Regions from separate parts of the Homo sapiens genome. Here region 1 is linked to region 2. Evidence: fine-mapped expression QTL. A gene starts in region 2. The other region holds a variant in brackets. All regions are shown on one strand. Distances are from middle to middle.

Region 1 (9,266 bases), 40 kb before region 2:
TTCTTTTCCTTTCTATACAGTCTTATAATGTTTCCTTTCTATGTATTCTTATAAGACTCTGAACTTCTATTATCATTCTTCCACATTACCTTTCACAATTATTTGTTTCATGCTTACTTGCCTTCTTTACTTAATTGTAGGCTCCTTATGGGCAAGGAACATATAACATTTTATTTCATCTTTCAATTACTAACATATAGGAGGTTCTTAATTTTTTTTTTGAGACAGGGTCTCACTCTGTCACCCAGGCTGGAGTGCAGCAGCATGATCTTGGCTCACTGCAACCTCTACCTCTAGGGTTAAAGTGATCTTCTTGCCTCAGCCTCCTGAGTAGCTGGGACCACAGGCACATAGCACGACACCCGGCTAATTTTTTATTTTTTATTTTTTTTTAAAGATGGAGTTTTGCCATGTTGCCCAGACTGGTCTCAAACTCCTGACTTCAAGCCATCCTTCCCAAAGTGCTGGAATTACAGGCATGAGCTGCACACCTGGCCTTCTGGCTGCTTTTAAGACCTCTTTTTCTTTGGTGTTTGGCACTGGTTTCTTTTTAATAACTTACTTGGGATTTGGTAACCTTTCTGAAGATTAAGGATTGATGTTTTTCGTTTTTGTTTTTTGAGATGGAGTCTTGCTCTGTCACCCAGGCTGGAGTGCATTGGCACCATCTTGGCTCACTGCAACCTCTGCCACCCAGGTTTAAGCAATCCTTCCACCTCAATCTCCCAAGTAGCTGGGACTACAGGCACAGACCACCATGCCTGGTTAACTTTTGTATTTTTAGTAGAGACAGGGTTTCACCATATTGGCCAAGCTGGCCTCAAACTCCTGACCTCAGGTAATCCACCCGCCTAAGCCTCCCAAAGTACTGGGATTACAGACGTGAGCCACTGAGCCTGGCCTGAAGATTGATGCCTTTCAACAGACAACTCAGAAAATTCTATCCACTGTCTCTTCAAATATTTCTCTTCCTCTGCTATCTCCTTTTTCTCCTTTTGAAACCAATTAAACTTGTTATGCCTCGCTCGGTCTTCCCCATCACTTATCTTTGAAATTTTCTTTTTCTTTCTTTCTCTCTTTTTTTTTTTTTTTTTTTTTTTTTGAGACAGTCTAACTGTTGCCCAGGCTGGAGTGCAGTGGTGTGATCTCAGCTCACTGCGATCTCCACCTCCCTGGATCAAGGGATCCTCCCACCTCAATCTCCCGAATAGCTGGGACCACAGGCATTCACCACAACACCCAGCTAATTTTTGTATTTTTTTGTAGAGATGGGGTTTCTCCATGTTGCCCAGGCTGGGTTTCGAACTCCTCAGCTCAAGCACTCCACCTGCCTCAGCCTTCTAAAGTGTTGGGATTACAGGTGTGAGCCACTGGACCCATCCCCATCTTTGCTATTTTCTTTTTTCTTTTCTTTCTTTTTTTTTTTTTTTTTTTTAAGAAGGAGTCTCGCTCTGTCGCCCAAGCTGGAGTGCTCGGCTCACTGCAAGCTCCGCCTCCGGGTTCACGCCATTCTCCTGCCTCAGCCTCCCGAGTAGCTGGGACTACTGGCGCCCGCCACCACGCCTGGCTAATTTGTTTGTATTTTTTAGTAGAGACGGGGTTTCACCGTGTTAGCCAGGATGGTCTCAATCTCCTGACTTCGTGATCCACCCGCCTCAGCCTCCCAAAGTGCTGGGATTACAGGCGTGAGCCACCGAGCCGGGCCAATCTTTGCTATTTTCTATCTGTGTTTCTTTGGGCTGCATTTTAGATCATTTATTTAGACTTATCTCTCAGTTCACTAATTTTATCTTCAGCTTATGTCTAATATGCTAATTTCATTATAAAATTTTCCATTTATAAAAGTTCTATTTTCTTCTTTTTCAAATATACTTTTCCATGTATCGTATTATCTTTACTGGAAATAGTTATTCTTACTTTCTGTGTCTGTTCCATTACTTTCAGATTTCAGGGTCTGTTACTGTTCTTGGTACCTTGTTCCCTTATGTGTTTTGTAATATTTTTATTGTAAGTTGCCTGTTTTTCTTGGAAAGTCATCTGTGAGACTTGTACTATTTCCAATGAGAAATCTACCCCATCCTAATCATGGTGCCTGTGTTATCTAATGGTTTTTTTTTCTCTGAGTACTTTTAAGATTTACTCTTTATCACTGGTTTTGAGCAATTTGATTGTGGTGTTCACTGGTTTAATTTTCTTCATGTTTCATGTGCTTTGAGGTTCATTGAACTTCTTTGTAGGTTTATAGTTTTTATTAAATTTCAAAAACTTTCAGCTGTTACTCCTTCAAATGTCTTCTGTCCACCTCATTTTCTGTCTGCCCTATTCAGATTACAGTGCATTGAAAGAATCCTTCATTGTTATTGATACTGGCCTTCAGAGTCTCCAATTCCGCCTGTTTCTTGAAGTCCCACATCAAACTGATGCTGTGTTTATTTTTTCTTATTTTTTTCTTTTTTCTTTTTTCTTTTTGAGACAGAGTCTCCCCGTCACCCAGGCTGGAGTGCAGTGTTGCAATCTCGGTGGCTCACTGTAACCTCTGCCTTCCGGGTTCAAGCGATTCTCCTGCCTCAGCCTCCCAAGTAGCTGGGATTACAGGCGCAGGCCACCACGCCCAGCTAATGTTTGTATTTTTAGGAGAGATGGGGTTTCACTGTGTTGGCCAGGCAGATCTTGAACTCCTGGCCTCAAGCAATCCGCCCACCTTGGCCTCCCAAAGTTCTGAGATTACAGGAGTGAGCCACCACGCCCGGCCCTCATCTTGTGTTTATGATTTTTGTTTCTTTTTTCTCTGTGTATTTCATCTTGAATACTTTCTATTGTGTCTTCAATTCACAGATGTTTTCTCTGTAATATTTAATCTGCCATTAATCCCAATCAGTGTATTTTTCATTGTACACATTGTAGTTTTCATCTCTAAAAGTACATTTTCAATATGTCTACTTAACTTTTTGAACATACAGAATAGTTATAACTGTTCCAGTGTCCTTATCTTTTATGTCAACCATGGGTATCAGTTTGGGGTTGATTTTGATTAGTCGCCTTATGATGAGTCATGTTTTCCTGCTTCTGTGCATGCCTGGTCCCCATCAAGCATTCAGCAGAATGCTGAGTTTCATATGTGTATAAGAAAATTACCTGAATCTGAGGAAAGATGTTAAGAAAAGATTAGGAGGAATACTGCCTAACATTCACATACGGCTGCAAATAGTGGCTGTTCCCACCAGCCAGGCTGAAAAGATTCATAATTCATGGAGCATTGAGAAGAGTACTCAGGAAGGTCTTGCCTCAGTAGTGAGGAATAACTAGCCCCAGACTGAACATTGTTCCAGATCCACCTAAAAAAATCATAAAAGCAACATCTGAAAGAATCAGACTATTTCAAAGTAACTAACTGCATCCCAGAACAAAGCTCAAGATTTGTAGGAATAAGAAATACCTAGAACCCAACAAGGTAAAATTAACTACATGTATCTCTATTTTTGAACTGCATTTCTTTAATTAACGTTGAACACCTTTCATGTGTTTATAAACCACTTTTATGTCTTGGTGTATGTGAACTACCTGTTTCTGTCCTTTACCCATTTCTTTTTTGGGTTGTGATCTTCTTTGTTAGGTATCTGGCTAATACAGTTGAAGAAGATGAAGAAGAAACCAAGTACGAAATTTTTCCATGGGCTTTAGGGAAAAACTGGAGAAAATTGTTCCCTAATTTCTTAAAGTTAAGGGACCAGCTCTGGGATAGAATTGACTATAGGGCTATTGTAAGCAGGCGATGTTGTGAGGAGGTAAGAATTTTAAAATGCTTTATATATGTAATCTTTGTTTTCTGTTTATCTTATTATCCTTGTTTTTTAATGTGCTTCTAATGTTTTGGTATTCTGGGTTTTTTTTTTTTTTCTAATATGTGGAGTAGACCATTGATCATTACCATGAATACAACTTGTGTATTACAATGTTGCTGTCTTATTATCACCATAACTAAAAACTGTCAACCGGGCAAGCCCTGCTCACGCCTGTAATCCCAGCACTTTGAGAGGCTGAGGCGGGTGGATCTCCTGAGGTCAGGAGTTTGAGACCAGCCTGGCCAACATGGTGAAACCCCATTTCTACTGAAAATACAAAAATTAGGCTGGGTGCGGTGGCTCACGCCTGTAATGCCAGCACTTTGGGAGGCCGAGGCGGGCAGATCACGAGGTCAGGAGATCAAGACCATCCTGGCCAACATGGTGAAACCCGTCTCTACTAAAAATACAAAAAAAATTAGCCGGGCGTGGTGGCAGGCGCCTGTAGTCCCAGCTACTTGGGAGGCTGAGGCAGGAGAATGGTGTGAACCCAGGAGGCGGAGCTTGCAGTGAGCAGAGATCGCGCCACTGCACTCCAGCCTGGGCGACAGAGCGAGACTCCATCTCAAAAAAAAAAAAAAAAGAAAAGAAAAGAAAAAGAAAAATACAAAAATTAACCAAATGTGGTGGCTGGTGCCTGTAATCCCAGCTACTTGGGAGGCTGAGGCAGGAGAATCACTTAAACCCAGGAGGCAGAGGTTGCGGTGAGCTGAGATGGTGCCACTGTACTCCAGCCTGGGCAACAGAGCGAAACTCCATCTCAAAAACAAACAAACAAATTGTCATTTCTATTTTTCAGAGCAGCCTACTTCTATAGTAAGTACTTTTTTTTTTTTTTTTTTTTTGAGACAGAGTCTTGCTCTGTCACCCAGGCTGGAGTGCAGTGGTGCGATCTCTGCTCACTACAAGCTCCGCCTCCCGGGTCCACGCCATTCTCTTGCCTCAGCCTCCCAATTAGCTGGGACTACAGGCGCCCGCCACCATGCCTGGCTAATGTTTTGTATTTTTAGTAGAGACGGGGTTTCGCCGTGTTAGCCAGGATAGTGTCAATCTCCTGACCTTGTGATCCGCCCGCCTCGGCCTCCCAAAGTGCTGGGAGTACAGGCGTGAGCCACCGTGCCCGGCTTATAGTAAGTACTTTTATTTTAGTGTATTTCTTCTGTCTAAAGGATCATCAATATATTGAAAAAGGGTGATATGAACAAACCAAAATATCTTATTTAGGATTACAATAACACTGGAGTTGAATAATAATTTCTGCTCAATAAAGTATGTGAAATTTCAGGTTCCCAAAATTGAAACACTATTTAACACATATATTAAATGGTATACAATTTAAATATTCTTTAAAATCATAACTCTTTTCACAAAGAATATATTGTTTCCTTAATGCCAAATCTTTTAGGATAAATCAGCAAGACACTAAAAATTTAATAATCAGTTATTTTACCAAATGTTCTG[G/C]TTTTTAATAAAGTCACTATTTCAAACCACAGAAAAATTCTAGAGTAGAAAATTAAATGGAAAGCAGTGGTCACTGTAAGCTCTAGTATTAGTTAAGAAAAATTTGATAAATGTTGATATACTTGCAAATCTTAAGATTTGATAGAATTAACTTATTCATTAATATACATTGATTTAGTGAGCACTTAGTAAATACATACCAGAAACTATATTATTTCTTTTAATTTAAAAAGGGCAGGCAGGCATGGTAGCTCACACCTGTAATCCCAGCACTTTTGGAGGCTAAGGTGGCCTGGATCACTTGAGTCCAAGAGTTCAAGACCATCCTGGGTAACATGGCAAAACACTGTCTCCACAAAAAATACAAAAAATTAGGTAGGCGTGGTGGTGCACACCTGTAGTCCCAGCTACTTGAGAGGCTGTGGTGTGAGAATCACCTGAGCCCAGAAGATTCAGGCTGCAGTGAGCCATGATTATGCCACTGCCCTCCAGCCTCAGCAACAGAGCAAGACCCTGTCCCAAAAAATAAAAATAAAAAAGGCTTGAAGCAAAAATAGCAGTATTACATCTATTAATTCTAGGCAGTAGGGATATGGATGTTTGTTATATTATTCCTAATGCTTTTTCATAATTTTAAAATTTAGCAACATTTAAAAAAATTAATGGAACTTGTTTTTCCTCTTCAAAAAGGTCACCTTATTTAAATGAATTTAATTCCATTATCCTTATCACAATACTTTGTTTCCTTCTGTAGCACTGAATAAAATTTGTAATTATTTATTTGCTTATCTATTGTCTAAACAATAAACTGTAAATGTAATGAAGTAAAAAATCTAGTACACTTCTAATATCTCCCATCTCTGTCCTCACACTTCAATTACAACAATCATGCATTACTCTCTTTTACTGAGAAAAGAGAAGCAGTAGAACAGACTGTCCACGTGCTCACATCTTATCGTCTATCCTACCTACATGCGTACCCCTATATTCTGCCTTCCCTTTGTTACTGTGAAAGAACGATCTTTGCTCCTATCCAAATCCATTCCCTCTACTTGTGCACTAGATCTCATCTTTTCTTGCTTTCTCAAGGACATCACATTCCAGTAATTGTCCCCTTTCCAGCATTTCACATTTTTTATTTTATTGGATCACTGCCATCAGAATGTAGAATTGCTCTAAGATATCCATCAATAAAAACAAAAACAAAAACTTTATCCCCCAGCTACCACTACATTTCTCTGCTTTGCCTCCCTTATAACCAAACTCCTTGAAGAATTGCTTGTATTCTATCTCTACTTCTGTTCTTTCCATTCTGTTTGAACCTGTTATATAAAGTATTTTTCCTATCATTCTGTAGAAACTTGTCAGGCCACCAAATATCTCTATATGGCCAAATCCCAAGGTTAATTTGTATTCCTCAATCTACTCAATTTAGCAGCATTTGACACTATCCCTCATTTCTTCCTGAAACACTGTCTTCACTTGGTTTTGAGGATACCAGGTTTTTTTCAGTCATTTTTGCCAGTTCCTTTTCACCTCACCAACTTCATTAGAGTGCCCCAGGGCTCAGACTTAGGATCTCTTCTCCTTTCTATTGGTATTAACTTATTAGGTGACCCCATTCACTCTCAAGGCTTTAACACTAACAACTAATAATTTCTTCCAATTCCAGATCTGCATACGAAATCGCCTGTTGGTATTTTTTGTCTAATTGATACCTCAAACTTAACGTGCCTAAAATTGAACTCCTGACTCCTTGACACAGACCTCCAGATTTGCTCCTCCTGCAGTCTTCCACATATTCATAAGTAGCAACTCTATTGTTTTAGTTGCTCAGGCCAAAAAATTATTTCCATTTACCCTTCTTTTTCTTATATTTGTACCTTGAAAAAATATCCAGCATCCTACCATTTCTCACCACCTCCACCACTAATACTATACTTTTATTGTCACCTCTTGCCTTGATTACTGGCATAAGTTTCCAAATAGTCTCTCCCACCCCCACCTTTTTTTTTTTTTTAAAGACAGGGTCTTACTCTGTTACCCAGGCAGTAGTGCAGTGGTGAGATCATGGCTCATTGCAGCCTTAACCTCCTAGACTCAAGCGATCTCCTGCCTTAGCCTCCCAAGTAGCTGGGACTACAGGCATGTGCCACCATGCCCAGCTAATTTATTTTTTGTAGAGATGGGGTCTCGCTATGTTGCCCAGGCCGGTCTCAAAATCCTGTGCCTAAGCAATCCTCCCACCTTGGCCTCCCAAAGTGCTGGGATTGCAGGTGTGAGCCACCATATGCAGCTATAATCTATTCTTCATACAGCTGCCAGAGTAATTTTTTTTTTAGGTAAGTCAAATCATGACTTCTCTACTCAAAAGCCTCCAGTGTCTTCCAGCCTTACATAGGGTAAAAGAGAAAGTCCCTGTCATGGTCCTACATGGTCTATCAGCCCTCCTCCCTTATCTCTTTGATTTCATCTCATATCTTTGCTCTTCCACTCAAGCTACACCGGCCTCCTTACCTCAAAGATACCAGTTACACTCCCATCTCATGGTCTTTGCACTTACTATTCCCATAACCTGGAATGTTGTTCCCCAAATATCAGTATGCTTCACTTCCTAACTACGTTCAGGATTCTGCTTAAATGTCACCTCAGAGAGACCTTTCCTTATCACCTTATATAGAGTAGTATCTCCCTCCATGGAATAGAAGTGTCCAGAAATATACCGTCACAATTATGTTCAATTGAATTTTGACAAGGGTGCCAAGAAAATTCAATGGGGAAAATGTAGTCTTTTCAACAAATGGTGCTATGACAACTGGATATCTACAAGCAAAAGAATGAAGCCGAACCTCTGGTTTATACCATATATAAAAATTAACTCAAAATGGATCAAAGACCTAAATGTAAAACCTAAAACCATAAAACTCTTAGAAGAAAACATAGGGGTAAGTCTTCGTGACCTTGAATTAGGTTTCTTAGACATGATACCAAAAGTAACATGTAACAAAAGAAAATATAAAATAGACATCATCAAAATTAAAACCTTTTGTCCTTCAAAGGATACCAAGTGAAGAGATGACCTATAAAATGAAAAAAATTTTTTGCAAGTCATCTATTTGATAAGGGTCTTGTATCTAGAAATATAAAGAGCTTTACAACTTAATAATAAAAAGACAATCAATTTAAAAAATGGGCAAATAATCCAAATAGACATTTCTCCAAAGAAGGTATGCAAATTGCTAAAACACACACACACACACACACACACACACACACACTTGAAAAGATGTTCAACATCATTAGCTGTCAGGGATTGCAAATCAAAAGCACGATGAGATATTACTTCACACCCACTATGATGGCTATAAACAAAACAAAAATAAAAGTATTGAAGAGGATGTGGAGATACTGGAACCCTCATACACTTCTTATGGAAATGTAAAATGGGGAAGTTGCTTTGCATAACAGTCTGGCAATTCCTCACAAGGTTAACATAGAGTTACCATATGATCCAGCAAGTCTAGTCCTGGCTATATATGCCAAAGGGTAAAAACAAAACTATGTCCACACAAAAAACTTTAACATGAATGTTCATAGCAGTATTCATAATAGCCAAAGTACAAACAACCTGAATGTCCATCAGCTGATAGAATGGATAAACAAAATAAGGTATATCCCTACAATAAAATATTACTTGGCAATTAAAAGGAATGAAGTACCTGGTTCAAGCTACAACGCAGATAACCTTGAAAAGATTATGCTACATAAAAGAAGCCTGTCACAAAGGACGACATATTGTATGATTCCATTTATATGAAAGGTCCAGAATGGACAAATTCAAAGACAGAAAGTAGATTAGTAGTTGTTATGGGCTGAGAGAAGGGAGAAAATGGAGTGTGATTGCTTTATATATAGAGTGATGAAAATGCTTCAAAATTGACCGTGGTTATGGTTGCTTAACTC
Region 2 (9,266 bases):
GGGATTACAGGTGCCTGCCACCATGCCCGGCTAATTTTTGTATTTTTAGTGGAGATGGGGTTTCACCACGTTGGCCAGGCTGGTCTTGAACTCCTGACCTCAGGTGATCCGCTCGCCTCAGCCTCCCACAGTGCTGGGATTACAGGTGTGAGCCAGTGTGCCCAGCTCAAAATGATGAACTTCTTATTTTTGGGGGGACAGAGTCTCGCTCTGTCACCCAGGCTGGAGTGCAGTGGTACAATCTTGGCTCACTGCAAGCTCCGCCTCCTGGGTTCAAGCGATTCTCCTGCTTCAGCCTCCCAAGTAGCTGGGATTACAGGCACCCACCACCACACCCAGCTAATTTTTTGTATTTTTAGTAGAGATGGGGTTTCACCATGTTGGCCAGGCTGGTCTCAAACTCCTGATTTCAGGTGATCTGCCCGCCTCGGCCTCCTAAAGTGCTGGGATTACAGGTGTGAGCCAACGTGCCTGGCCAAATGATGAACTTCTAATTTAGAATTAAGATACTATATAACAGCGGTCCCCAACCTTTTGGGCACTAGGGACCCGTTTCGTGGAAGACAGTTTTTCCACAGACTGGGGAGAGGGGGATGGTTTTGGGATGAAATTGTTCCACCTCAGATCATCAGGCATTAGTTAGTTTCTTATAAGGAGCATGCAACCTAGATCTGGTGCATGCACAGTTCACAAGAGTTTGCACTCCTATGAGAATCTAATGCCATGGCTGATCTGACAAGAGATGGAGCTCAGGCAGTAATGCTCACTACCCACCGCTAACCTGCTGTGTGGCCCGGTTCCCTGTTACAGGCCACACACTGGTACCAGTCCTCAGCCTGGGGGTAGGGGAGCCCTGCTATATAAGAAAAAAAAGAGACTATGCTATTACTAGATTGGAGGACCCACTTGCCAAACATATAATTGGAATTGTTTTTGTTAACACAAATATTACGGATGATATTAATAAAAACTGTTTTTTTAAATTTAGTAAACAAATTTTCTTGGTGACAGGGTCTCTGTCACTCAGACTGGAGTGTAGTAGTGCAATAGTAGCTCACGGCAGCCTCGAACTTCTGGGCTCAAGCAATCCTCCTACCTCAGCCTCCAAAGTAGCTGGGACCACAGGCATGTACCACCATGCCCAACTAATTTTTTTTTTATTTTTTATAAAGATGGGGTCCTGCTATGTTGGCCAGGTTAGTCTTGAACTCCTAGCCTCCAGCAATCCTCCTGCCTTGGCCTCACAAAGCACTGAGATTACAGGTGTGAGTGACGGCACCTGCCCCCTCACTTTTTTTTTGAGATAGGATCTTACACTGTTGCCCAGGCTGGAGTGCAGTGGCAAGATCATGGCTCGCTGCAGCCTCAAACTCCTGGGCTCAAACAATCCTCCCATCTCAGCCTCCTGCGTAGCTGGGACCACAAGTGTGTGCCAGCATACCTGGCTAATTTTTTATTTTTTGTAGAGACAAGGTCTCCCTATGTTGCCCCGGCTGGTCTCAAACTTCTGGGCTCAAATGATCCTCCTGCCTCAGCCTCCCAAAATATTGAGATTACAAGTGTGAGCCACTGCACTCTGCCTCTGGTCATATTTTTAATACTAAGATGGAATTATGTAATTCTAACAGGGAGATCAGTTTTTAAACATCAGTGAAGGTATTCCCTCAAGCATTTCAAAGTTGTAGAAGTTGAAGTAAAACTATCTCCAGCCATTACTTGGAAGCTATAAAGAGAAGTCAACACCTAACAAATTTAGTACTTAAATTCCTCCTTAGAGTGGAACAATGTGACTTTTATCTGTAACAAATGGAAAGGCAGAAAGTATACTAAATATGCATATTTATAACTTCATGAAATGTAACTAATCTCTCCTGATTTTGTCTAATGGGGAGAAAGGAGACACGGGGAAGCAAGATAAAATTACGAAAGTCTTTTAGTTTTCTTCAAGAGCTTATGATACCATGGCCAGGAGCGGTCGTTCTCACCTGTAATCCCAGCACCCTCAAGGGAGGATCCCTTGAGCCTAGAGAAGTTTGAGACCAGTCTGGGCAAGTTAGGGCGACCCCAACTCTACAAAAAAAATTTTTGATTAGCTAGGCATAGTGGCATGCACCTGTGGTCCCAGCTACTCAGGAGGTTGAGGTGCGAGGATTGTTGGAGCCTGGGAGGTTCAGGCTACAGTAAGAGGTGATTGAGCCACTGCACTCTAGCCTGGGTGACATAGCAAGACCTTGTCTTTAAACAAAAAAAGCTTATTATACCTCAGTAGCCTAAGTTTCTGAGGAAAGTTTTTTTAGTCCCTGGGTAGACCGTTTAAAATACAGACTGGATTCCTACTAAGAACCTTCTAATGGTCCTTCACTACAAATGGAATAAAATACTCAAACCACACCTCATACGGGGTCCCTCATCTGACCCATTGAGGCCACAACAGAAACTCTGCAGCATTCCTCCCTTTGCAAGAACAATTCTCTTCCTAGATCTGTTTACAAGGCAAGCTCTTCCTTATTTAGGTTTCCTATCAAGTGTACCTCCTTGGAGACCATCTCTCCTCACCTGACATAAAGTATGCTCATACCCCAGGTCACCCAAAACAATGTCATTGTTAATATATTTGTCTTCATGACACTTAACACTACTGGAAATGACCTTATTCTTTCATTTACTTGTTTGTTCTTTGTCACCCCTTCTAGAATGTAAGGTCTATGTTGAGGGTGAGGACTGCAGTTCAACACTATACTTCCCTAAACAGTGCCTTGAGTATGGAAGGCAGTCAATTTGCTGAATAAATAACGAATGAATCCTGATCTGGAGAAAGGAGGAGGAGTTGTGTTACACAGGAACATTCTACTCAAGGACTGTGACTAAGGATTGAAATAATCTGCTAGCAATAGATGATTAGCATAAGCTTCAAACTAGGGCTGGGCGCGGTGGCTCCCGCCTGTAATCCCAGCACTGGGAGGCCGAGGTGGGCGGATCACTTGAGGCCACGAGTTGAAGACCAGCCTGGGCAATAAGGCGAAACCCCGTCTCTACAAAAATTAGCCCGGGGTGGTGGTGCATGCCTGTAGTCCCAGGTACTCAGGAGGCTGTGGTGGGAGAATCGCTTGAACCCGGGAGGCAGAGGTTGCAGGGAGCCAAGATCGCAACACTGCACTCCAGCCTGGATGACAGAGTGAGAACTTGTCTTAAAAAAAAGACTGAAACTAGGCTTTAGGCAGTTAACTTTTTAATAAAGAATAGTCATTTTATGTTTGGTGTTGAATGTTAGCTATTGTAATATAAAACTCTATTTCTTCCCTAAAAGGGGAAAAGCACCGTAATGTACCTATTGTTAATATACTCTTGTAACATGATTATTGAATATTAAAATATCATCATAGTAGTACTAAAAAATTGTTCCCTAAGAGTTCAACATTCTCTTGAGTCCTGAAGTTATAAACTTAAGAGTAATGGGGAACAAAATTAGTACTTATTATGTACGTAGTGAGTTCACATCACCCTAACAGAAAGTTGAGCTATTATCCACATTTTACAAATAAGGGACTCGAGACTCCTAAGTTAAAATTAAAATCTAGCCGTTCCCTAATGCTAATTTTCATCATGATATGTAAAAGTTATAACCATTGGTTTATTTTAAAAGCCTGAGTACAATAAAAAATCCAAACGTTCTGAGATGTCTTTGAATACATTAATCAGGACTGAGTACTGCATCTGTCTTTGCCCCTCCTGAAACCAATACACACCTTATCTCCATCGCATTACCTTTGGGAATGTTATGGCAGTCCCTCTTTTCATCAATACTACATAGTCTTCCAAGGCTGGCCTCCTCAGCATGTACTGCTTACCGAAGGAACTCCTCAGTATCTGGCCGGGGAACTTCCCCACGATCTTGCCGAACGGGACTGCCCCCCAGTTACTATTTAAGAGTCCGAAGTTGTTCAACCTAAATAATTTCTTAAATTTTGTTTCTCCCTCCCCAGTCTCAGCTAAAATCAGTTCCCCAGCCTGAAAGGGTCTCTCTCTGGAAGTTGAACAAGAAGGGGAGACGTGACGCTCTTCGACCTCGGTAGCGGACTGGGCCTGCGAGAGCATCGAAGGATCCTCGGATCCCTGGTGTGTGGGACCGCACCGGCCCTGGTCTCCGCTCGAGTCCTCGAGCTCTCGAGGGGATGACTCTTCCCGCAGCGTCGGCAGTCTGAGGTTTTCCAGTGACGAAAGACATCCAGTCCCAATGTCCGAGATGCTCAGAGGGAGAGATGGGCAAGACTCTGCTCCTGGGGCTTTCCTTTGTGCCGCCTCGTGCTCTCTTTCTCCATCTCGCAGGTCTCTAGGCGAGGACCTGCAACACAGTGACCGAGCTCCCTCGAAGGGCTCCTGCCCCAGGCCGTGCAGGAATGAATTGGTTCCGAGCCCCTGCCGCAGGCACAGCAAGACAGGACCGCGGCACCATGCCATTAGCATAGTGTTTCGCGAAGGCGCCGTCGCAGACGAGTGACGCAAGCCTAGCGCGACCCCTTCTTTCCCAGTCGCGCGCATGGCGCAGCAGCCCGATGGCTCTGCAGCTGCGTGGGGCTCTACAGCTCCGCGACTGCGCCTGCGTCGGGGAGGGGGCGGTGCGCTAGGTCAAGCTAGGGCGCGGGAGCAGCGGAGTCCTGGTTGAGTGACCATCCAAGGAATATGTCCTCGCGCGCGGCCGCCGTTTTCCTTTTCGGAATGTGGGTAAAGAATTTACCGCTAACAGACGACCTCCAGGTTCGCTCTTGGACAGCAAGATTGAGAGACAAAACTTAACAAAGCGCTGTGCAAACTGAAATCCCAGGCTTAGCTCGCTTGTGTCTTGAACACGGAAGTCACCTAGTCACCCACAAGATGTATGAGTACAGCTAACCCCCAGATGCATTTGACAGACGGCGTGGGACGCGCCACTTGCTGATTGGCTCTCCTTTCCCAGTTGACCGCGACATCCCCCAGCCCCAACTCCCTTTTGATGGGGCTGTGACCACCTGCCGGTCCCCTCACCCACCCCTCACGCCCGGAGAGTCCGAGGTTGATTCGAGTACTCACTATGTGCTTATGTAACACATGTTTTCATTATTAAAATATAACTAGTTTACCCTCCCAAAACGAAATAGAAGTGTCTTAAAATGGAAACAGGTATCTTTGGAGGCCAGAGTTATTTAGCGTTAAATATCACTAGCCTCCCAGCATTTTGGGAAGCCGACCGAGGCAAGCGGCTCATTTGAGGTCAGGAGTTCGGGACCAGCCTGGCAAATGTGGTGAAACCCCGTCTCTACTAAAAATACAAAAATTAGCTGGGCGTGGAGGCACGCACCTGTAATCCCAGCTACTCGGGAGGCTGAGGCAGGAGAAGCGCTTGAACCCGGGAGGCAGACGTTGCAGTGAGCTGAGATCTCGGCACTGCACTCCAGCCTGGGCGACTGAGCAAAACTCCTCTCGGGGGAAAAAAATTAGTCGGGCGCGATGGTGCACGCCTGTAATACCAGCTACAAGGGAGGCTGAGGCATGAGAATAGCTTGAACCCAGGAGGCGGAGGTTGCAGCGGGCCAAGATCGAGCTACCACTGCACTCCAGCCTGCGCGACACAGCAAAACTCTGTCTCAAAAAAAAAAGAAAAATCGCTAGCCTCTTTGCTGGATATTAGTTGACTGGGCAAAAGTTTATTGAGAGTCTGGCAATACGAGGCACGTTAGACACTCATTTAAGTTTCCAACAATTCTGTGTTAGAAACAAATCCATTTTATGAGTAAAAGAACTGGCCCAGGGAGATTAAATAATTTGGGGAAACCAGGAGTGGTGGCTCACACCTGTAACCCCAACACTTTGGGAGACCCAGGCCAGAGGATTGCTTGAGCCCAGGATTTCAAGACCCACGTGCAACATAATAATAATAAGTTGGTCAAGATGCATAGCTGACAAGTGGCATTGCAGAGTTTCCTATTTAGTCAGTCTGGTTCAGCAGCCCATGCTCTTTGTACTGTAACACCGTTTGGAAAGACTGGTCAACAGCACAGTTGAACTTAAAGTCCAAGTATATTCAAAGGGCTGTGAAGTCAATGTGAATTCTGTTTAAATTTGATGAAATAAATCTTGTTATTCTTTTTTTTTTTTTTTATTTGAGACAGAGTCTTGCTCTTGTTGCCCAGGCTGGAGTGCAATGACACGATCTTGGCTCACTGCAACCTCTGCCTCCTGGGTTCAAGCGATTCTCCTGCCTCAGCCTCCCGAGTAGCTGGGGTTACAGGCACCTGCCACCATGCCAGGCTAATTTTTGTATTTTTAGTAGAGACTCGGTTTCACCATGTTGGCCAGGCTGGTCTCGAACTCCTGACCTCATGATCCACCCGCCTCGGCCTCCCAAAGTGCTGGGATTACAGGCATGAGCCACCGCGCCTGGCCGTTATTACTTTCTAAGACATAAATTAATACTTTCTAATCAGTACTTTCTAGGACATCAGCCACCATAAACTCCATCAACAGGATTTCTCCCTTCTTTTTTTCCTTTTTTTTTCTTTGTGAGACAGAGTCTCACTCTCGCCCAGGCTGGAGTGCAGTTGTATGATCTCGGCTCACTGCAATGTCTGCCTCCCAGGTTCAAGCAATTCTCCTGCCTCAGCCTCCCAGATAGCTGGGATTACAGGTGTGCACCACCATACCCAGCTAATTTTTGTATTTTTAGTAGAGACGGGGTTTCGCCATGTTGGCCACGCTGGTTTGAACTCTTGACCTCAGGTGATCCACCCACCTCAGTCTCCCAAAGAGCTGGAATTACAGCCATGAGCCACTGCACCCAGCCAAATTTCTCCCTTCTAATTCTAAAAATGAATAAAGAAACTGCTCTCTCCACACCCCAACTGCGTGTCTCACTTTGTGTAGTTTGCTTTTTAGGAAAAGTTATGACCAATAGTTTCTGGAGTCGTAGGCTTTTCTCACTACTTTTTCTTGTGATAGGCTTTCTAAGACAAAAACTCATTTTTGGTTATAAAATTCTTGAAATTAAGGAGATTATCATTGCCAAACATGGGTCTGAGCCGGAACCTCCTGAACTCTAAGCCCTATGGTGGTTTTAAAAGTTATCATACCTACTTTATTATTTCTTGAGTATTATCAAATGATACTTGGCTGTTATTTCAGAATAAGCAGGAATTGGAAAAAAAGAAAATACACTAACAAAATATGGGAAGTAAATTTACATATCTTTGATTTTTAAAACAAATTGTAAATGGAAAATGGCATCACTTTCTTTCCATTGTTTAAATAACAGCCACAATGTTATACGTATTTTGTTTTATACACATCTAATGAAATACATTAGTACATTTTGGAAAATAATATTATTTATTCATGATCTTTCAGAGCATTGAAATTCTTAAAAAAGAAGTCACTATGTGGGCCTTTCTATTTCTGGCTATCCTTTACTTCTGCTTTCCCTATGAAATTGTCAGCCTGCACTCTGAAACTATTATCTTGATGATGAATTTGTGATACATCGTCAACTTATCATGTTTACTTACTTAATTTATTTACTGAGACGGAACTTTGCTCTTGTCACCCAGTCTGGAGTACAATAGCACGATCTCAGCTCACTGCAACCTCTGCCTCCTGGGTTCAGGTGATTCTCCTGCCTCAGCCTCCTGAGTAGCTAGGATTACAGGCCTGTGCCACCACGCCTGGCTAATTTTTTGTATTTTTAGTAGAGACTGTGTTTCACCATGTTGGCCAGGCTGGTCTTGAACTCTTGACCTCAGGTGATCCACCCACCTCGGCCTCCCAAAATGCTGGGATTACAGGCGTAAGCTACCGCGCCCAGCCCATGTTTACATTATAAGGCTAAGAAAAATACTGTTTTCTAGTGACATTTAGTTAAGCATTTACTTTAAAATCTGAATAGTTCTCAATAAATACCATGGCTGATGGCTGGCATTTTAAAATCTCCAAACAGGCAACCAGTTCTAGTTCCACAGGTGATCTCCTCCAGCTCTTTGCACATGCTTCTTCACTCTATTTTGTGTAGTTTTCCCTTGTCCTCCAGCTATCAACCTCACAGTACCACTGGAATGGTGGCTTTGTACCAATCCCAAAAGACCTAGAGTAGTGCCTTTCACTTCTGCTCCCAGTGGGTCCTGCCTGTTTTTGTTTTTATTTTAGAAATAGGGTCTTGCTCTGTCACCCAGGGTGGAGTGCAGTGGTGCCATCATAGCCTACTGCAGCATCGAACTCCTGGGCTCAAGCAATTGCCCTGATTCAGCTTCCAGCGTAGCTGGGACTACAGGCATGTGCCACCAATGCATGGCAATTTTTTTTTTTTTTTTAAAGACAGAGTCTTGCTCTTGTCGCCCAGGCTGGAGTGCAATGGCGCAATCTCAGCTCACTGCAACCTCCCCATTCTGGGTTCAAGCGATTCTCCTGCCTCAGCCTCCCAAGTAGCTGGGATTACAGGCACCCACCACCATGCCCAGCAAATTTTTGTATTTTTAGTAGAGATGGGGTTTTACCATGTTGGCCAGGCTGGTCTCGAACTCCTGACTTCAGGTGATCCACCTGCCTCAGCCTCCCAAAGTGCTAGGAATACATGCGTGAGCCAATGTTTTTTGTTTTTTTTTGTTTTTTTGTTTTGTTTGTTTGTTTGTTTTGTTTTGTTTTGTTTTGTTTTGTTTTGTTTTACAGGGTTTCACTCCCATCACCCAGGCTGGACTGCAGTAGCATTCTCTTGACTCACTACAAGGTCTGCCTCCCGGGTTCAAGTGATCCTCCTGCCTCAGCCTCCCGAGTAACTGGGATTACAAGCTCATGCCACCACCCCTGGCTAATTTTTCTATTTTTAGTAGAGACGGGGTTTCACCATGTTGGCAGGCTGGTCTTAAACTCCTGACCTCAAGTGATCCACCTGCCTTGGCCTTCCAAAGTGCTGGGATTACAGGTGTGAGCCACGCGGTTGGCCATAATTTAAAAAAAATTTTTTGTAGATGCAGGGTCTTACTATGTTGACCAGGGCAGTCTCAATTCCTAGCCTCAAGCAATCCTCCCTCCTCAGCCTCCCAAAATGCTGGAATTATAGGCAAGAGTCACCACATCCAGCCAGAGTCCTGTCTTTAGATCTATCATGGCACATGTCATACTATATGGAAATTGCTATTTATCATTTCCCAGGATAGAGGATATAATTGTTGGGGAGAAGACTATGTCTTGTTCATCATTATAATTCCAGTGCCTGGCACAAAACATCTCTCAATAAACATTTGTTG

Which allele goes with the higher level. Positions count from the first base shown, and alleles are read on the strand shown. Sizes are in standard deviations (SD) of each study's normalised expression.
In carriers of allele G in region 1, the expression in left ventricle of the gene that starts at base 4,496 in region 2 tends to be lower than with C alone (small effect, 0.24 SD a copy in GTEx).

Evidence for each region. PIP is the estimated chance that this variant, and not a neighbour inherited with it, causes the effect.
Region 1: its variant is the best candidate, but not a certain one, in a credible set for the expression of TRMT61B in left ventricle (GTEx, PIP 0.59).

Annotation. Positions count from the first base shown.
Region 1 is chr2:28,825,535-28,834,800 of GRCh38, forward strand. SPDYA (speedy/RINGO cell cycle regulator family member A) reads left to right here. Exons shown (of 8, transcript NM_182756.4): 6 at 3,614-3,785. Among named protein-coding and RNA genes, the nearest start is that of SPDYA, 19 kb to the left of the region's middle. The variant G/C (reference allele first, on the strand shown) is at 5,304.
Region 2 is chr2:28,865,814-28,875,079 of GRCh38, forward strand. It overlaps TRMT61B (tRNA methyltransferase 61B), which reads right to left and starts at 4,496. Exons shown (of 7, transcript NM_017910.4): 1 at 3,766-4,496. The coding sequence starts at 4,464. RefSeq lists enhancers at 2,490-3,005, 3,006-3,520, 4,150-4,674, 4,289-4,458, 4,689-4,838.